Linked DNA regions of Homo sapiens: all the other regions are linked to region 3. Evidence: fine-mapped expression QTL. A gene starts in region 3. Each other region holds a variant in brackets. All regions are shown on one strand. Distances are from middle to middle.

The links.
Region 1: its variant is fine-mapped to the expression of SHLD1 in whole blood (INTERVAL, PIP 0.96).
Region 2: its variant is fine-mapped to the expression of SHLD1 in whole blood (TOPMed, PIP above 0.99).
Region 4: its variant is fine-mapped to the expression of SHLD1 in whole blood (TOPMed, PIP above 0.99).

The regions. Positions count from the first base shown.
Region 1 is chr20:5,808,251-5,813,250 of GRCh38, reverse strand. The region is part of intron 2 of SHLD1 (shieldin complex subunit 1); the gene reads right to left. Among named protein-coding and RNA genes, the nearest start is that of SHLD1, 60 kb to the right of the region's middle. The variant G/A (reference allele first, on the strand shown) is at 2,831.
Region 2 is chr20:5,819,243-5,824,242 of GRCh38, reverse strand. All of the region lies in intron 2 of SHLD1 (shieldin complex subunit 1), which reads right to left. Among named protein-coding and RNA genes, the nearest start is that of SHLD1, 71 kb to the right of the region's middle. RefSeq lists an enhancer at 1,276-1,415. The variant A/G (reference allele first, on the strand shown) is at 2,475.
Region 3 is chr20:5,747,438-5,752,695 of GRCh38, reverse strand. It overlaps SHLD1 (shieldin complex subunit 1), which reads right to left and starts at 2,295. Exons shown (of 3, transcript NM_152504.4): 1 at 2,217-2,295. RefSeq lists an enhancer at 2,420-2,469.
Region 4 is chr20:5,776,059-5,781,058 of GRCh38, reverse strand. All of the region lies in intron 2 of SHLD1 (shieldin complex subunit 1), which reads right to left. Among named protein-coding and RNA genes, the nearest start is that of SHLD1, 28 kb to the right of the region's middle. The variant T/C (reference allele first, on the strand shown) is at 2,134.

The sequences.
Region 1 (5,000 bases), 61 kb before region 3:
CTCCCAAAATGCTGGGATTACAGACGTGAGCCACAGCACCCAGCCAAAGAACTAGAATTTAAAAAGCCCTTTAAAGACCAGGCATGGTGACTCACGCCTGTAATCCCAGCACTTTGGGAGGTCGAGGCGAGTGGATCACTTGAGCCCAGAAGTTCTAGAGCAGCCGGGGCAACATGGTGAAACCCCACCTCTACTAAAAATAGAAAAAAATAGCCAGGCATGGTGGCACACACCTGTGGTCCCAGGTACTTAGGAGGCTGAGGTAGGAGTGTCACCTGAGCCTGGGAGGTTGAGGCTGTGGTAAGCCACGATTATATCACTGCACTCCAGCCTGGGTGACAGAGTGAGACCCCGTCTCAATAAAAAAATAAAAATAAAAATAAAAAGCCCCTTAAAGAGAGGGAGAGCCTTTGTCTATTTTGTTCACTGTGTATCCCCGACCCTAGGAACAGGGTCTGCAGCATAGTAGATACACAATAAGCATTTCGCTAATGACTGAAGGGACAACATTCACAACCCTGTAAAGAAGCTAGCCATCAGGGTTCAGGTAAACAATCTAACATAATACGGAGAAACAGAAAAGAACTCTGCATTTAGTGAGGCATAATACCTGGTGAAAGTAATACACATGGCAAAGCTACTTCTCATTCATGATGATTTATTTTATAAAGCAAAGACACAATTGTACTGAGCTCCTGAGGACTTCTGGCTCTGTTGTCTTACAAGAGGCCACTCGTTCACTTGTTCAAAAATTGTCGGAATTTTTAGAAATGGAAAGAAGGACTCTAAAGTTACATATATCAAAACCTCTAAGTGTCTGTTATTAATAATAGTTCTTACCATCTTCCAGTTGCCTGTTAAGCACTGAGCACAGTAATCAGTGCATTGTATACTGGATACATAGAAGTTTTCCAAGCAGTGGCCTATGGACTCATGCTAGGCCATGATGAAACCCTTACTAGTCCATGGATACGTGAGAAAAAAACACTAGGGACTACAGAAAACTGATCTTTATTTTGGGATTAGGTCCTTCTTTCATTTTGAATGTTAAAATATCCTTTCTTTTATGAAATGCTAATAGATTTGTGGAGATATTGGTATAGGTTGTTTTTAAGATTTTTGCTTGGCAAAATAAAAGGTCGGGTCCTCAAAAAAAAAAAGAAAAAAAAAGAAAAAAAAAAGAAAAAGAAAAAGAAGTTCCTAGACTAGGACTTACAGATACATATTATCCCACTTACCCTTCATAGCAATCCTATGAACTAAGTATTAGTAATCCCCATTTTACAGATGAGAAAATTAAGGCTTAAGAGAAAGTAACTCGCCTTGGGTTATACAGCCGGCAGTGGTGGAGATGGGGTTTAGTGCAGGTGTTCAAATTCATTTTTTTTTTTTTCAGAGACACAGTTTCACATTGTTGCCCAGGCTGGAGTGCAGTGGCATGGTCATGGCTCACTGCAGCCTCGACCTCCTGGGCTCAAGTGCTCCTCCCACCTCAGTCTCCCAAATAGTTGGGACCAAAGGTGTGCACCACCACACCTGGCTAATTTTTAAATTTTTTTGTAGAGACACAGTCTCACTATGTTCCCCAGGCTGGTCTTGAACTCCTGGGCTCAAGCAATCCTCCCTCCTTGGTCTCCCAAAGCACTGGTTTTACAGGCGTGAGCCACCATGCCCAGCCTCAGGTCTCCAGCTTGAAAACACATTTTTTTTTGTCTACCATTCTACTGCCAGAAGACACCAGTCTGGTCCTAATACACTTAATGTCAGAAATACATTATTTAGAGAACTGGAAGAGAAGGGAATTAAAAAGCTGTCCTTTTTAATTAAAACTCCTGAGGTTTGTGTCTATTTTGTGAGATTTCACCTTTCTGGGGGCATATGTTTTCTAATCTGATAAGTAAAGTTTCCACTCTCAGTTGCTGGCTGTGGCTCTCCTGTCCTATGACTTCGCTAGATCACAGAAGGAAGGTGCTCTCTCCAAGAATTAAGGGAGTCCTGGAAACATCTGTCTTGGAACTGTCACTTATGGAGTCATATGACCTGGGACATCTCTCTGAGCTGTGGCTTCTGGTACGTAATTTGGAGAGAATAAGCCTTTTCCTGCCTGGCTGCAGGATTACTATATGGATCAAATACTTGGCATCGATCACCCCTCAGTAAATGTCTGATCAAAAGTAGATGTATGAATGAACTAATGCTATATATTACTGTTGCTGGAAAATGAAGTGTCTTATGTGATATATTAGTATTAGGTCATCAGCACTTCTCAGCATTGGATGATCATACAGGACGATCTTAAAGCCAGGACATCTGCAGAGTTAACAAAAGATTATATAACAGAATTATCTTTTTTTTTTTTTTTTGAGACAGAGTCTCACTCTGGAGTGCAGTGGCATGACATCTGCTCACTGTAACCTCCACCTCCTGGGTTCAAGCGATTCTCCTGCCTCAGCCACCCAAGTAGCTGGGATGTAGTTACAGGCATGCACCACCATGCCTGGCTAACCTTTGTATTTTTTGTGGAGACATGGTTTCACCACGTTGGCCAGTCTGGTCTCAAAACTCTTGATCTCAAGTGATCTGCTTACCTCAGCCTCCCAAGGTGCTGGGATTATAGGCGTGAGCCATCATGCCAGGCCTACAGAAATACGTCTATTGGTAGGGGAAATAGAAAGAATCAATGGAACACCTGTATGTACCTACTGTTCATCCTTATCCCACTTAAAAAATATATGTGCAATGGCAGAGTAATGGAATATTTTAAGACTTAGAAAGACTCTAGGCAACTTAGGCAAATGCTCTCATTTCACAAAAGATAATTAAATGGCTC[G/A]GAAGGTCCCATAGCTAATTAGAGGCAATAATGAGATTAGAACACCTATCTCCTAATTGCCACCTAGCCTAATGCTAAGATCACTCTACCACAGTATCAGTCCCCTTAGTTACTCGATGTCTAAGGTGGTCCATTATTGAACAATACAATTTTTTTTTTTTTCCGAGACAGAGTCTTGCTTTGTCACCCAGGCTGGAGTGCAGTGGCACGATCTTGGCTCACTGCAACCTCCACCACCCGGGTTCAAGCAGTTCTCCTCCCTCAGCCTCCCAAGTAGCTGCGATTACAGGCGCGCAGCATCACGCCTGGCTAATTTTTGTATTTTTAGTAGAGATGGGGTTTCACCATGTTGGCCAGGCTGGTCTAGAACTCCTGACTTCATGATCTGCCTGCCTCGGCCTCCCAAAGTGCTGGGATTACAGGTGTGAGCCACTGCGCCTGGCCGAACAATCCAATTTTTGACAAAGGTGTAGTATGTGATAAACTAGATATGCCAGAAAACTGAAATAACAATGAGACCTCAGTATGTGACATCACTGTGTACAGCAGGGTTTCATACCCTCAGCGCTATCGGGCTAGATAATTCTTTGTTGGGTGGGGGAACTATTCTGTGCATTGCAGGATATTTAGAAGCATCCCTGGCCTCTCCCGACTATATGTCAGTAGCATCCTATGGCTTTAACAACCAAAAATGTCTCCAAACTCCACCAAATGTCCCCTGGTGGTGGCAGCACGGGGCAACGGCCACTGGTTGAGAACCAATGGTGTAGAGGAAATATTTAAGTTGTCTGTACAACTGAGGAAGGATGGATGCAGTTGTACAATGTGGGGTAAGAGTGGTTAGAAGATAATTCATCCAGCTAGAGCTGGAGCTGCTGAGCTTTGACTGTATTGGTTGTTTTTGGTGGCAGAGTGACAATAACCTCTGGAGCAAGCTGGACTACAGAACTGGGGACCCACTTCAGGGGAGGCAGCCGGCTTTTCCTTTCAGGATGCTGCTAATCAGACACTTGGCAGTAGGGTGTGACATAAGGGGAAATGAGGATTTAACTCTGAGCTCAGAGCAAATACATCTAATTCTAAGAGTCTATTTAAGGAGAGCCATATCTATGAATGCTGTCAAGATTCACTCTAAACCATAGTTAGTATTTGTTTCATGGAATTAAAATGAGTTTCTTATTTTTGTGCAAACATGTACGTTAAGATCCTTTCCACTATTTAGTCATACATTTAGTTCTTTGGTGATTTTTAAAAGCTGTCCTTTTCATCACTTATGAGCATGGTTTTAGAAAGAAAAATCCACCCCCAACATTTCTCACCTCCTCTTATGAGAAATTATTCTTTTTTAGTTCTACCTCTGGAAGTACATTCTCATGAGGTATGTGCCACAACTCTGTATCTGCCACTATGGCAACTCATAAAAAATGCCACCCCCTTAAATTCCTTCATGGCATATTAATTTGATGTTCTAAAACAAACACTTTACTGTGAATTAACTCCTAACCGATAATATTAACCCAACTAAACTGGCTTCTGTAACACTTTCACCATCTGTAAGAATGTTTCTTGTGCAAATAAAGGCGATCTTTTGTTACTTAGCCATTAAATTTCATTAAAATATTTTCTGCTTAAATCCACTAAATCACTAATATTCAAAATACAACAATATAGTTACCAAGTTTGACTCCATGAATGAGAATATTCATTCACCAAATGCATTAGATAAGCTGTGTAAGAGGAGATTCCCTGCAAGATTGTTTATGAGTAAAAACATGGGTCAATCTAAACATCCATCAATAGACATCTCGTTAAATAAACTATGATCCAATCATACAATGGGATACTATGCAGACAGTAAAAATATGAGAGAGCTACATGTACCAACATGGCAAGCTGCCTTATTATAGCAATAAGTGAAAAAAGGGCAAGATGCAAGATAATATTTTGGTAAAATTCCATTGGTATTTAGAAAAAAAGATATACGTGCTGTTTGTGTGTGTACAATATACACATGTACATATGTATGTATGTCTATCTATATTTATGTATATAGATCTGTAGGTGTGTATATGGAAGGATACACAAAAGTTATCTACAATAATTACTTCTGGGGAGAAGCATGAAGACCTAGGACTTTTACGTTTCTTTTTTTTTTGAGATGGAGTCTTGC
Region 2 (5,000 bases), 72 kb before region 3:
AGAACATTCCAGACTAAGGGACCAGCAAGTGCAAAATCCCGGAGGTGGGAGTGAGCTTATGTGTGAAGACCAGAAAGAAGGCCAGTGCGGCTGGGAAGAGGTGGGAGAAGCAGTCACAGCCAGGCAGGGAGAAGCCAGATCCTGTGGGGCCCAGAGAGCTGATGGAGCAGCTTGGATTGTGTCCTAAGCGCACTGAAAGGTTTTAAGCAGGTGGAAGTGACATTCTGGTGCTGCTGCTGGAAAGGAGACCAAGGAGGGCAAGCATGGGACTGGAGCCCAGGTACGAGGCTACTGCAGGAGTTGTGGAAGATGGTGGCTGGGGTTTGGGTAGAGTGGAGGAGGTGGTGAGACATTACTCTATTTGGAACACATTCTAGAGGTGGCCTATGGGGACAGATGCAGGCAGTGGAGGAAGCTTGCCCATGCAACCCAGGATGGCTTTGAATGCAGCCCAACACAACTGTGTAAACTTTCTTAGAACATTATGAGATTTTTGGCTGGGCGCGGTGACTCATGCCTGTAATCCCAACAGTGTGGGAGGCTGAGGTGGGCAGATCACTTGAGGACAGGAGTTCGAGACCAGCCTGGCCAACATGGTGAAACCCTGTCTCTACTAAAAATACAAAAATTAACTGGGTGTGGTGGCGGGCGCCTGTAATCCCAGCTACTAGGAAGGCTGAGGCAGGAAAATTGCTTGAACCCAGGAGGCAGAGGTTATAGTGAGCTGAGATCGCGTCATTACACTCCGGCCTGGTGACAACAGCAAAACTCCATCTCAAAAAAAAAAAAACAAAAAACAACAAAAAACAAGTCTATGCTAGACCAGGCACTATGACTCATGCCTTTGGGAAGCCGAGTCAGGTGGATCACTTGAGGTCAGGAGTTTGAGACCAATCTGGCCAACATGCCAAAATCCTGTCTCTACAAAAAAATACAAAAGGGACTGAAGGCAGAGGGGTGGAGGGAAGAGGCCTGAGGCCTGAGGTCAGTAAGAAGTGCCTTGAAGAGCCAGCAGAGGAGGATGAGAAACAGCAGCCAGTGAGGGCAGGAGGAGAAGCTGAGGGAGGGGTCCCAGGAGCCAAGGGAAGAACAGGTATCCGGGAAGGGGGGGATCAACAGTGTAAAACGCTGCTGCTTGGTCAAATACAAAGGACTGGGAACCGACCACTGGATTTGGAAGGACAAAAGACACCACAGTTCCATAACAATAGCAGTGGTGGAGTATATATGGGGGTGGGGGCGGGGTGGGGGAGGGAAGGCAAAAGTGTGACTGGAGTGGGTTGGAGAGAAATCGGGAAGGTAAGAGGTGGAGAGAGTGAGTATAGACAAATAAGACACATCTTTCATAGCCTTCTGCTATAAAAAGGAACAGAGAAACAGGGCAGGACCTAAAGAGGAACCTGGGGTCATGGATTTTTTTTTTTAGATGGGAAATATTACATCATCTTTGTATGTAGCCAAGAATGAGCCAGTCAAGAGAGAAAGATTGATAATGCAGGAGTGAGGGGTTAACGGTGGGTGTGAAGTCCATGACTAGGAGAGAGGAGATGAAGATTAAGTGGAGGGGCTGGCCTTAAGCAGGGCATAAACAACTCACCCACTGTAACAGTCTTCTTGGTGGCTGCTCCCTGCTTCTCAGGTACGATAAGGAACCACACAATTTGTCTCACTGCTGGGACTTAGGGACACAAGCACACACACTCACACACATGCACACAACAAAGCAACACAGCTCTGAGCACTCACTTTATTCATTTATTTATTTTTAATTAATTAATTTTTTTGAGATAGAGTCTCACTCTGTAGCCCAGGCTGGAGTGCAGTGGTGCGATCTTGGTTCACTGCAGCCTCTGCCTCCCAGGTTCAAGTGATTCTCCTGCCTCAGCCTCCCAAGTAGCTGGCACTACAGGCACCCGTCACCACGCCCGGCTAATTTTCTGTATTTTTAGTAGAGATGGGGTTTCATCGTGTTGGCTGGGCTGGTGTCAAACTCCTGACCTCAGGTGATCTGCCCGCCTTGGGCTCCCAAAGTGCTGGGATTACAGGCATGAGCCACCATGCCTGGCTTTGAGCACTTACTTTAAATCTCTCAAGAAAATTAAATTAAATGAACAACTGAAGCAGTAAATGTTAGTTCACCTGAGTCAACACAAAGAACTTTTAGTTAATAAACTTTGCCTGGCCAGTCACCTATGAGGTAGCCAGCATCCAGGATGGCTCCTCACCTCCTAGCACTCACACCCTCAGGTGGTCCCCTTGCATGTGGTCCCAGGGTTGGTCTGTATGACTGTCGAGTGCAGCAGAGGAGATGGCCCATCATGTCTGAGATGAGATCATGAAAGACTCCAGGGCTTCTGTTTGGCTGTCTCCCTCTCTCACGACTCACTGTGGGGAAGCTGACTGCCACAGTTCAAGGACACTCAGCAGCCCTGGGAGAGGCCCATGTGGAGAAAAACTGAAAACTCCAGCCAAGC[A/G]TCCGGTGGCAGTCTTCTCTGAAGCAGCTCTTCCAGCTCCAGGGAAGGTTTCACTTGGCGGCCACCTCATGACAGACCCTGAGCCAGAACTACCCTATTAAGCCCCTCCTGGATTTCTGATCCTCAGAAACTCTGATATGATCGATGTTTGAGTTTTCCAGAAATTTGTTATTACTCCCAGCTGATAACTAAATTCCCTATCCCTCAATATCCAGTATACTATAATCAAGTTTTTTTGTTTTGTTTTGTTTTGTTTTGAGATAGAGTCATGCTCTGTCACCCAGGCTGGAGTGCAGTGGTGTGATCTCAGCTCACTGCAACCTCCGCCTCCTGGTTCAAGCGATTCTCGTGCCTCAACCTCCTGAGCAGCTGGGATTATAGGTGCACACCACCACGCCCGGCTGATTTTTGTATTTTTAGTAGAAACGGGGTTTCACCATGTTGGCCAGTCTGGTCTCGAACTCCTGACCTCAGGTGATCCGCCCACCTCAGCCTCCCAAAGTGCTGGGATTATAGGCGTGAGCCACCACCACGCCCAGCCTTAATAAGTTTAAACAAACTATATTTTACAGGCTAAAAAAATGTTGGTCACAGACTTCCAGGCAATTTTTAAAGCCCCATGTTTAATATATTTGTCATTGATGGATCTATAAATTTTTATTTTCTCAGTTGATTAAGCACAGATATTAAAAGATTTTCCACAGGACTAGAAGTTGCTGCCTTAACATCCAATACTTAAGCAAACCGTGGATATCAAAGAAGGACTGGGAAGCTCTTTATTTTATGGGACTTTAGGGGAACTGCCTTCCCAGCAGGCTCTTCCTGAGCAGTCTGCTGGAAATTCTTTGTGTAGCTCTAAGACAGCCTAGATCTAGGACAATATATCAGGTTTTTAGGTAACAGCCTGGTTGGCTTTGTCATCCCTGGTCTCTTTCTCCAGAACACTGTAAATCAAAGGCCCAAGCTAAAGCTTGTACATCAAACCTAGAGACAAAAAGGAGAAAAGATCAAAGGAGACATAAATAAAACTTTTCCCTGTGAGACAGTATGGCAGCAGGCTAGGCCATCATTTAATATCAGTCTGAAATAATATTTTCCCTTCTTCACTTTGTGAACTTTGCCTGGTCTTTCACAACTATCCTTTTTTAAACCTTCTCATGTCAAACAACTCTGAGTTTGCCTGGTGAAAATGTCACTGTGGAAGAATTTCTTTTAATCTGAACATCTTGGAGGCTGGTTTCTTGGGTGTTCTATCACTGGGTGGTGAACTTCAAGAGGGCAGACACTGCCTTTAATTCACACTTCATCCCCAGGGGCTAGCACAGTGTCCAGCACATAGCAGCTGCTCATTGAATTTTTGCTGAATAAAGGCACTGAATTTGCTTTCCGTCTCTGAAGATCTACCAAATACTCTTTTGTATCCGTTGAGTATCCGTTGAGTGTTTATTGGCGTAGCATGGTGCAGGGAACCATCAGGGACATGAAGCTGAATGTGACATATATTTGAAGCATTTAATAAGACTGGCTGGGCATGGTGGCTCACGCCTATAATCCCAGCACTTTGGGAGGCCGAGGTGGGCGGATCACCTGAGGTCAGGAGACAAGCCTGGACAACCAACATGGTGAAACCTTGTCTCTACTAAAAATAGAAAAATCAGCCAGGCATGGTGGCACACGCCTGTAATCCCAGCTACTGGGGAGGCTGAGGCGGGATAATCACTTGAACCCAGGAGATGGAGGTTGCAGTGAGCTGAGATCACAGCACTGCACTCCAGCCTGTCTGGGCGACAGAGCAAGACTCCTTCTAAAAACAAAACAAAAAACAAAAAAAAAACACTGTCAAGTCCTCATTATGTATCCACCAGAACTCAGTAATTTTTTAGGCACAACACAAAGGTGTGGCTGTCTTAGCAAGTTACATGATGATTTTATTGTTGTTGTTTTTAAGAGACTGGGTCTCACGCTGTCATTCAGGCTGGAGTGCAGTTGCACCATCATGGCTCACTGCAGCCCTGGCTTCCTGGGCTCAAGCCATCCTCCTGCCTCAACCTCCCAAGTAGCTAGGACTAAAGGTGTACTCCACCATGCCTGGCTAATTTTTTTATTTTTTGTAGAAACAGGGTCTTGCTGTGTTGCCCAGGCTGGTCTCGAACTCCTGACCTCAAAGGATCCTCCTGTCTCAGCCTCCCAAAGTGCTGGGATTACAGATGTGAACCACCATGACTGGCCTACATGATGTTTTAATATGACAACAGCCAACATGACAATAGTCGGTGTTGTTCCTACAGTGCATGAAATCAGTAAGCATTCATTGAGTACTTCTTATATGTGATGAAAGTGAAGCAATTACAAAGGCAAACATTACAGTTAATAAGCAAAGTTTGGAATGAGAAATAACAGATAAGGGTAAGAGTGTGGTCACACCAGATCAATCTGGTTCAACTTTTACGTAACAAAGTTGTGAGTTGTTTTTCAGTTGTCACGGACCCTCAGGTCTCATAACCTGAGCATGCCCAGATGAACCAA
Region 3 (5,258 bases):
GCAGTGAGCCGAGATCGCACTACTGCACTCCAGTTTGGGTGACAGAACAAAGACTCTGCCTCAAAAAAAAAAAAAAAAAACCCCAAAATATATTTCTTTGACATATTTTAAAATGGCCCTACAAAGCTACAAAGCTGTCTTTTGTAACAGAAATTTGCATCTGTAGAGAATCTCCATTAATGCAGCCAGGATTTCCTTTTCTAGGCCTTTCCCAGATCCAGGAAAGATTAATTCTGACACCTAAATTTCCAAAAAGAGACATTTACCATCTATTCTCTCTTTTTTGTTTTTTTTTTTTTTGAGATGGAGTCTCACTCTGTCATCCAGGCTAGAGTGCAGTAGTGCGATCTCAGCTCACTGCAACCTTTGTCTCCTGGGTTCAAGCAATTCTTGTGTCTCAGCCTTCCAAGTAGCTGGGATTACAGGCGCACGCCACCGTGCCTGGCTAATTTTTTTATTTTTCGTAGAGATGGTGTTTCATCATGTTGGCCAGGCTGGTCTTGAACTCCTGACCTCAAGTGATCTGCCTGCCACGGCCTCACAAAGCGTTGAGATTACAGGTGTGAGCCATGGAGCCCAGCCCATCTCTAGTCATGGCACCTAGCCCATCTATTCTCTGAGGCTGCTACTCACACTTCATCTACGTAACAAGGACCTTGAACCACACAACTCCCTTATCTTAGTTCAAGCATTCTTTTCTACTGACTTCAAGTCTTTAGACAAAGCTTAACTCTCTCAAGCAACTGTCAGCTAAAGAATCCCTAAAATCCACCTAAGACTTCTAAGACCACCCTTGGACATATCCACCTTTTTGGGTCTAACCAATGTATACCTTCCATGTATTGATTTATGTCTTTGCCTGTTAACTCCTGTCTCCCTAAAATGTAAAAAAAACAAACTATAACCCAACTGCCTCGGGATCACTTACTAAAGACTTTTTGGGTTTGTGTTTTCTCTCTGGGCGATGGTCAATCATACTGGCTCAGAATAAACCGCTTTAAAATAGTTTACAGAGTTTTATTTATTTGCTAACAGTCTGACACATGATACAAAGACAAGCTTTGAAAATATTATACATAGTATAAGAAGATAGCCGGGCGTGGTGGCTCACACCTGTAATCTCAGCACTTTGAGAGGCTGAGGCAGGTTGATCAAGAGCTGAGGAGTTCAAGACCAGCCTGGCCAAGATGGTGAAACCTCGTCTCTACTAAAAATACAAAAATTAGTCGAACGTGGTGGCAGGCGCCTGTAGTCCCAGCTACTCGGGAGGCTCAGGCAGGAGACTAGCTTGAACCTGGGCAGCAGAGGTTGCAGTGAGCCAAGATCGTGCCACTATACTCCAGCCTGGGCTACAGAGTGAGAGTCATGAGACTCCGTTTAAAAAAAGAACAAAAGTCATGAAAGAAGCTAGTCACAAAAACATTGACATTATACTTAATGAAAGAAGCCAGCTGCACTGTATGATTTCATTTATATCAAACGTGCGAATTGGCAAGGCTATACAGACAGAAAGTATACTAGCAATTGTCTAGGACTTGAGGCGGAGTGGACGTGGTGAATGTAGAATGACTGCTACTGGAGGCAGGATTTTTCTTTGGAGTGATGAAAGTATTCTAAAATGAGATCACAGTAATAGATGCACAATTCTGTCAACAACAACAAAAAAACCCTTAATGTTACCCTTTATTATTTATTTTTGGGTACGTTGTCTTGCTCTGTCTTCCAGGCTGGAGTGCAGTGGCGCGATCTGGGCTCACTGCAGCCTGGAACTCCGGGGCACAAGCGATTCTCCCACCTCAGTCTCCTGAGCAGCTGGAACTACAGGCGAATGCCACTATGCTAGGCTTGATTTTTTTTTACGCTTTAAATGGGCAAATTTTACTTAGTAGGTGAATAGAAATTTCCCAAGAAAGCTGTTTTTTTGTTTGTTGGTTTTTTAGCAGAACCTCCTGAAGTGGCAGGTCACTGAAAAAATTTAAAAAAAAACAACAAAACCGAAGCTTATCCATACTCACTATCCACAAATTCCCAAAATTCCCCAAAGCACAGGCTGCAGACACCGTGTGTTGGGGCGGAAGGGGCGGGGAGCTAGCAGGAAATCCTGACATGCCTAGGAAAGCCTCCATAACTTCCTAATTGAGAGAGAACGATCAGATGCATTGCTGTGACCCCCGCCCCCACCACTCCAACCCCCCCCCATCCCATCCCGCGCTTACCTCTCCTCCAAAGCACTCCAGAAAACTGAGGAGAAAAGCCGCCAAGCCCCCCGACACACTCACCATCCGCAACCGGAACGCGGAAGCAATGGCGCCATCTTTTTTATGGGAAATGTGAGGTTCGAAGGAAGTCACCGGAGCCATCCTTACTGCGGGCAGTGAAGGGCAATGGAAGCCGGTCGCGGCCATGTTGACTGAGGCTTTTGGCCTGTCAATGAGGCTTGCCACATGTGGCTATTTTGGGCAATTTCCTGAGGAGGCTTGTCGATAAATGTGCTTGGTAAACCCTAAGGGAACAGAAAAAATATTCAAAAATTTAAATGTTGGCCGGGAGCGGTGGCTTACGCCTGTAGTCCCAGCACTTTGGGAGGCTGAGACGGATCACTTGAGGCCAGGAGTTTGAGACCAGCCTGGGCAACATAGGGAGACACTGTCTCTACAAAAAAAATTTTTTTTTAATTAGCGAGGCATGGTGGCACATGTCTGTAGGCCCAGGTAGTTGGGGGGCTGAGGTGGGAGAATTGCTTGAGCCTGAGAGGTCAAGGCTGCAGTTGGCCATGTTCTTGCCACTGCAGTCCAGCCTGGGCAACAGAGCTAGACCTTGCCTTTTAAAAAAAAAAATTCGTCTGGGCTCAGTGGCTCACGCCTGTAATCCCAGCACTTTGGTAGGCCGAGGCAGGAGGATCACCTGAGGTCGGGAGTTCGAGACCAGCCTTACCAACAGAGAAACCCTGTCTCTACTAAAAATACAAAATTAGCTGGGTGTGGTGGTGCAGCCTGTAATCGCAGCTACCCGGGAGACTAAGGCAGGAGAATCGCTTGAACCCAGAAGGTGGAGGTTGTGGTGAGCCAAGATCGTGCCATTGCACTCCAGCCTGGGCAACGAGAGCGAAACTCCGTCTCAAAAAAAAAAATAAATAAAATTCAATGTCTTGGAGAGGGTGGGGTGGCATGCCCCTGTAATCCCACTGCTTTGGGAGGCCAAGATGGGAGGATTACTTGAGGCAAGGAGTTCAAGACCCACCTGGGCAACACAGTGGAGACCTTGTCTCTACAAAATGGTTTTGTTTTTTTTTTTTTGAGACGGAGTCTCGCTCTGTTGCCCAGGCTGGAGTGCGGTGGCGCCATCTCGGCTCACTGCAAGCTCCGCCTCCCGGGTTCACGCCATTCTCCTGCCTCAGCCTCCCAAGTAGCTGGGACTACAGGCGCCCGCTACCACGCCCGGCTAATTTTTTGTATTTTTAGTAGAGACGGGGTTTCACCGTGTTAGCCAGGATGGTCTCGATCTCCTGGCCTCGTGATCCGCCTGCCTGGGCCTCCCAAAGTGCTGGGATTACAGGCGTGAGCCACCGTGCCCGGCCTACAAAATGGTTTTAATAAATAAATAAATAAACTTGAATGTCTACATTTTAAAAATATGAAAAGTAGAAATTAAAGATGAGGATGAAAATATTGTAATATTCTGATGCATGCAGATAACTACATAACTGCCACAACTGCAGGACCACAAAAAAGAGACTGTCTAAAGACAAAATTACAAAATTAAGATTTAGCTTAAAGATCTAATTGGCTTTTGTTTACAATTCTAGAATCAGGCAGCATCTCATTCTATAAGATTGAATGTTCCAATGAGCTGAGCAGACAAGGTTAGCTTCATAGGCAGAAAAGGGGCTAAAGAATGCAGAAAGAGATTTGAACAAAAAGCAAATTGATCGTCCTTTTTTTTTTCTTTTTTTTTTTGAGACAGTCTTACTCTGTCGTCCAGGCTGGAGTGTCCTGGTGCGATCTCAACTTCCATCTCCTGAGTTAAAGTGATTCTTGTGTGTCAGCCTCCCTAGTACCTGGATCACAGGCGTGCACCACCATGCCCGGCTAATTTTTGTATTTCTAGTAGAGACAGGGTTTTGCCATGTTGGCCAGACTAGTCTTGAACTCCTGATCTCAAGTGATTTTCCCGCCTGGGCCTCCCAAAGTGCTGTGATTACAGCCATGAGCCACCGCACCCGGCCCTGCAAATTGATCATTTCAAAGTTACTTTCCTTGTAGGGTTAAAACAGAGAAGACTTCCTTATTATATTTACTCAGATTGACTGGAATCTCCCGTTTTCTGGAAGATGGGCTTGTTTCAAAGTTCAGTTTGATTACATGGCACTTAGCACAAGTAACTCAGTTCTGATTTGGCCTGGCCTGCTGGGGCCTAGTGGAGGAGGTCAGACCAAATCAATTGCCTCTTATAAAATTTAACAAAACTGAGGGCTCTTTTCCCCTTTCACCATTTTCTTGAAAGAGTAGTGTATACTCATAGCCTCCTATCGATGCCTAAATTGGAATAATAACCCATAAATTAGGAGTCCTGGACTTAAGATAAATATTTTACCTATACACTATTTTCTTTTCCTTTTATTTATTTATTTATTTATTTATTTTTTGGAGATGGAGTCTCACTGTGTCGCCCAGGCTGGAGTGCAGTGGCGCGATCTTGGCTCACTGCAACCTCTGCCTCCCGGGTTCAAGCAATTCTCCTGCCTCAGCCTCCTGAGCAGCTGGGATTACAGGCATGTGCCACCATGCCCAGCTAATTTTTTTATTTTTAGTAGAGATGGGTTTTCACCATGTTGGTCAGGCTGGTCTCGAACTCCAGACCTCAGATGATCCGCCACCTTGGCCTCCCAAAGTGCTGGGATTACAGGTGTGAGCCACCATGCCCGGACTTTCTTTTCCTTAAATACTCCATGCTTGCCTTCTCTCAATTCTGAGCTCTTCCCCCATGCAATTTCTTCCCTTACGAACACTCTTCTCTCTTCTTTGATGTTTATCTTCCTTACAATCTCAGCTTTAACCAATTTTTCCTCCAGGAACCTTCTCTGACTTATCTGAAAAGAGTTAGTGGTCCCTTGCAAGAATAGCTCACTTTCCTCTGTTTACCCAGATTGCTCTAAACTCCTTTGTCCTTTCTGCTTTTCCCACCAAACTGTAAGTATCTCAAAGGCAAAGACCACGTTTATCTTTTTCTCTGCTTGTATTTCAGAGCCCAGCTCAGTG
Region 4 (5,000 bases), 28 kb before region 3:
TTACCCATCTTTACATACTCATACTGGAATGACTAAGGCTTTTGAGGTTTTTCTAACACTCTCAGATTCTTATCAGCCCAGTAGTTTTCTGGAAAGTGCTCTTAAGTCTCATGTCCTTGCTACTAATTTGCTCCTCCAGAGTATGAACAGTGATGCGGCAGTTGGGCACATAGCAAAAGGACAGAGAAGCGTCCATCCAGTTTGGCTCCTAGGGAAGATCATTGGCATCTGAGTAAGGGCAGGCTTAGTCCAGAGGGGAATGGAGGTAGAGGCCATGTGCCTGGGAATGAGGAGCAATCCTGAGATGAAGAAGTGAGGAGGAAGGCAGGCAGCCCCTTCAAAAAGCCTGGCTGGGAAAAGCAGGGCAGGGATAGGCCCATGGTCAGGGGCAGCTGCAAGGTGAAATGGGGAATCCTTTACACAAGTTAAGCCTAAGCCTGGGCCCATGTTCTTGTAACTGGGTTTTGCAGCGGTCCTTGCTATATCCTAAATCTAAGGTCACCCTTCCTTGGCCTACTACTCTTCCAGGGGTTAGAACTGTGACACTGACTCCAACCTGGAAGCTGGGACCTTGCTACTCACTGAGAAGGCACCTGCACACTGCCTGCCACCTGCCTGGATTTCTGGGTATTCTCTCCAGCGTGCCTGTTGCTGGGCTGTGCTGTGCCACCAGAAGACTACGCCACGCCTCCACTGTGAACCCCAACCCCTTGCCAACTCTGTGTCTGGATTTTGACTGAAGAATTTGATAACAGATGATATGACTGAACTCTTACAGTCAAGCCGGGTGCACTGGCTCACACCTGTAATTCAGCACTTTGGGAGGCTGAGGTGGGCAAATCACTTGAGGCCAGGAGTTTGAGACCAGACTGGCCAACATGGCAAAACCTTGTCTCCACTAAAAATACAAAAATTAGCTGGGTGTGGTGGTGCACCCCTGTAATCCCAGCTACTAGGGAGGCTGAGGCATGAGAATCACTTGAGCCTGGGAAGCAGAGGTTGCAGTGAGCTGAGATTGCACCACTGCACTCCAGCCTGGGTGACAGAGCAAGACTCTGTCTCCAAAAAAAAAAAAAAAAAAAAAAACAGAAATTGTAAAAACTATGCCAAGTTAATGAATCCTAATGACCAAAGCTTGGCTCTATTTCACCCAGTAGCTGGGGGAGCCAGGTCCCAAGTTCACCCTTAGACCCCCCATTCAGCTGTAAGCAACCTGCCATACTCTGCCAGTTCTTGAGATAGTCAACTCTATTTTGAGCCAAGCACAAGCTACATGAAGGTAGCCAACAGTGTGTGCCTCACTGAGTAAATACCAGGATGGGCAGAGACCAATGGTGAGTCACCCTGAATGACCCTCCAACTGGAAACCTTGGCTATATTTCCCAATCCCTGGAAGATCAACTTCCTTACAACACATAACAGCAAGTAAGCAAGAGAGAACATCAAACTGGCTTGGGAACTGGAGGTGTTAAGAATCTGAGATAGAATGGTGGCCCAGTAGAGATTAGTGTAAAGGTGGGCATGTCTCTGAGCAAACAATAGATCCAGAGTCATCAGAATTAGATTAAAATGTCGGCAAGAGCCTCCTGAAGGGCCATGGGGAGAGAACCCGTAACTACAGCTACCTATGAACAAGAGGCATGGAAAAGAAAATGGACTCAACTTATAAATGAAAAACCCAGGCCCCTGGACAATTCTGAAACTTAAGGTGGAAAATGGTTAGGTCGGAGTAAACCAGGTTGGGCTGTTAGGGCAGTGACCTCCTTCAGAGTTTAAGGCTGTCACCTCAAGTTCATTGCTTGGTAACAGCAAGATTACCAGTGATAACCTCTCCTAACTGACTTTTTTTTTTTTTTTTAGACAGAGTCTCACTCTGTTGCCCAGACTAGAGTGCAGTAGTGTCATCTTGGCTCACTGCAGCCTCCACCTCCCAGGTTCAAGTGATTCTCATGCCTCAGCCTCCCAGTAGCTGGGATTACAGGTGCCCACCACCATGCCTGGCTGATTTTTGTATTTTTAGTAGAGATGAGATTTCACCATGTTGTCCAGGCTGGTCTTGAATTTCTGGCCTCAAGCGATACACCTGCTTCGCCCTCCCAAAGTGCTGGGATTACAGGCATGAGCCACTGCATC[T/C]GGCCTCCTAACTGACTTTTGTAGATAATTTCTCACAAAAGGTAGCTCTGGAATGTTTACAGAAAAATCAACAGCCTTCCATGCTGTGTAAAAGTCTCCTAGTGATGTTAAAATGAAGTTCTCTTTGTGATAGATAAACCTGAGCACGTTTATTTCTGCTTAGGGTGATCTACTAGAGATGGTGTTATTAAATAACAGAACGGCTGGGCTTCCATTTGATTCTAGTGTATTCCCTGCTCCTGTCATGGCTGAAAGATACCATTCTCACTTAGTTCTTGGGAAGCTCTGGGTGATCTGGTCCTTATTTTTTTTTTTTTTTTTGACAAGGTCTTGCTCTGTCGCCCAGGTTGGGGTGCAGTAGCACGATCATGGCTCACTGCAACCTCCACCTCCCAGGCTCAAGTGATTCTCCCACCTCAGCCTCCAGAGTAGCTGGAACCACAGGTGTGTACCACCACACCCGGCTAATTTTTAAATTTTTTTTTAGTAGAGACAGGGTTTTGCTACGTTGTCCAGGCTGGTCTCAAACTCCTGAACTCAAGGGATCCTCTCAAGCGGATCACAAGGTCAGGAGATCGAGACCATCCTGGCTAACACGGTGAAACCTCATCTCTACTAAAAATACAAAAAAAAAAAAAAAAACTAGCCAGGCATGGTGGTGGGCACCTGTAGTCCTAGCTACTTGGGAGGCTGACGCAGGAGAATGGCGTGAACCCAGGAGGCGGAGCTTGCAGTGAGCCGAGATCGCGCCACTGCACTCCAGCCTGGGCGACAGAACGAGACTCTGTCTCAAAAAAAAAAAAAAAAAAAAGAAAAAGGGATCCTCCTGCCTCAGCCTCATAATATACCAGATATGCCAGATAACAGGCATGAGCCACCACTCACAGCCCTGGTCCTTTTTAAAAACAAACCTAGTGGGTATTGTGGCAAAACATATAAAAGTACTACAGAATTGCAGAGTGCACAGCAAAATAAAAATTGTTTTAAAATGTTTAAGTTTGAATAAAATAGTATCAAAAAGTTAATATTCCTCCCTAAAACTCCTTCCACCTCTCCAAAGTGTTTGTTCTATCAAGTTAACAAAACTTGCCTAAATTTATTTGCAGCAGTTCCTTGTCTCAGTGGTATCATCCTCTTGGTCACTTCCCAGGTTAGAAAAAGCTTTCTTTTTCTTCCAATAACAATGTGATTTTAGCTGGGTGTGGTGGCTCATGCCTGTAATCCCAACACTGAGAGGTTGAGGCGGGAGGATCGCTTGGGCCCAGGAGTTCAAGACCAGCCTGGGCAACATAGTGAGATCTCATCTCTAAACAAAAAAAAAAAATAAAATTTTTTTTAATTAGCTAGGCAGGATAACACACGCCTATAGTCTTAACTACTTCAGAGGCTGAGAAGGGAAGATTGCTTGAGTCCAGGGGAACCACAATACTGCACTTCAGCCTGGGCAACAAAGCAGGATCATACCTCGAAAAAGAAAAAAAAAGTGAAACATTTCCTTTGGATTCAGTCAGCTCTGTCATTTGCTAAGTGACACTGGGAAAGTTTCCTAACTTTTCCAAGTTTGTTTCCTCACTTATTAAATGGGAATGATTTCCACTTCTCAGGTATGTGATAAGAATTAAAAGTGGTGATGTTTGGGCTGGGTGTGGTGGCTCACACCTGTAATCCCAACACTTTGGGAGGCTGAGGCAGGTGGATCACTTGAGGTCAGGAGTTCAAGACCAGCCTTGCCAACATGGTGAAACCTCATCTCTACTAAAAATATAAATATTAGCTGGGCATGGTGGTGCACGCCTGTAATCCCAGCTACTCAGGAGGCTGAGGCAGGAGAATTGCTTTAACCAGGGAGGTGGAGGTTGCAGTGAGCCGAGATTGTGCCACTGCACTCAGCCTGGGCAACAGAGTGAGACTCTGTCTTGAAAAGAAAAAAAAAAAGTGATGATGTTTGTGAAATATTTAGCATGGAGCCTGACAGTATAAAACCTGACAGGTAGTAAATGCTCAATAAATGGGAGTGATCACTATTAATGTGCCCTAAAACACTGCAGTGTGGAGTATGCAGAGAGCAATTATCACACCCAGAGCCTTCCATGGGGTAGGATGAGTAAACCAATGTGAATGCTTTTTTTTTATGCTTACTTATTTATTATTATTATTATTTTTGAGTCGGAGTCTTGCTCTGTTGCCGGGGCTGGAGTGCAATGGTGCGGTCTTGGCTCACTACAACCTCCACCTCCTGGGTTCAAGTGATTCTCCTGCCTCAGGCCCCCGAGTATCTGGGATTACAGGCGCCTGCCACCACGCCCGGCTAATTTTTGTATTTTTATTAGAGACAGGGTTTTACCATGTTGGCCAGGCTGGTCTAGAACCCCTGACCTCAGGCGATGCACCCGCCTCGGCCTCCCAAAGTGCTGGGATTACAGGCATGAGCCACTGTGCCCAGCTAGAGGTAATTAAGTTTTGAGGGTGGAAGCCTCATGATGGCATTAGTGCCCTTATAAGAGACATGAGAAAGAGGCTCTCTCTCTAGGCCATATGAGGACACAGGAAGACGGTGGCTGTCTACAAATCAAGAACAGGGACAGCACCAGACACCAAATCTGCTGGCACCTTGACCTTAGACTTTCCAGCCTCTGGAGCTGTGAGAAGCCACCCAGTGTATGGTATTTGTGATAAAAGCCTGAGCTGGCTGGGCGCAGTGGCTCACGCCTGTAATCCCAGAGCAGTGGCTCATGCCTGGGATGACCACAGCGGGTGGATCACTTGAGGTCAGGAGTTCAAGACCAGCCTGGCCAACATGGTGAACCCCGTCTCTACTAAAAACACAAAAATTAGCCAGGTGTGGTTGCGCTCACCTGTAATTCCAG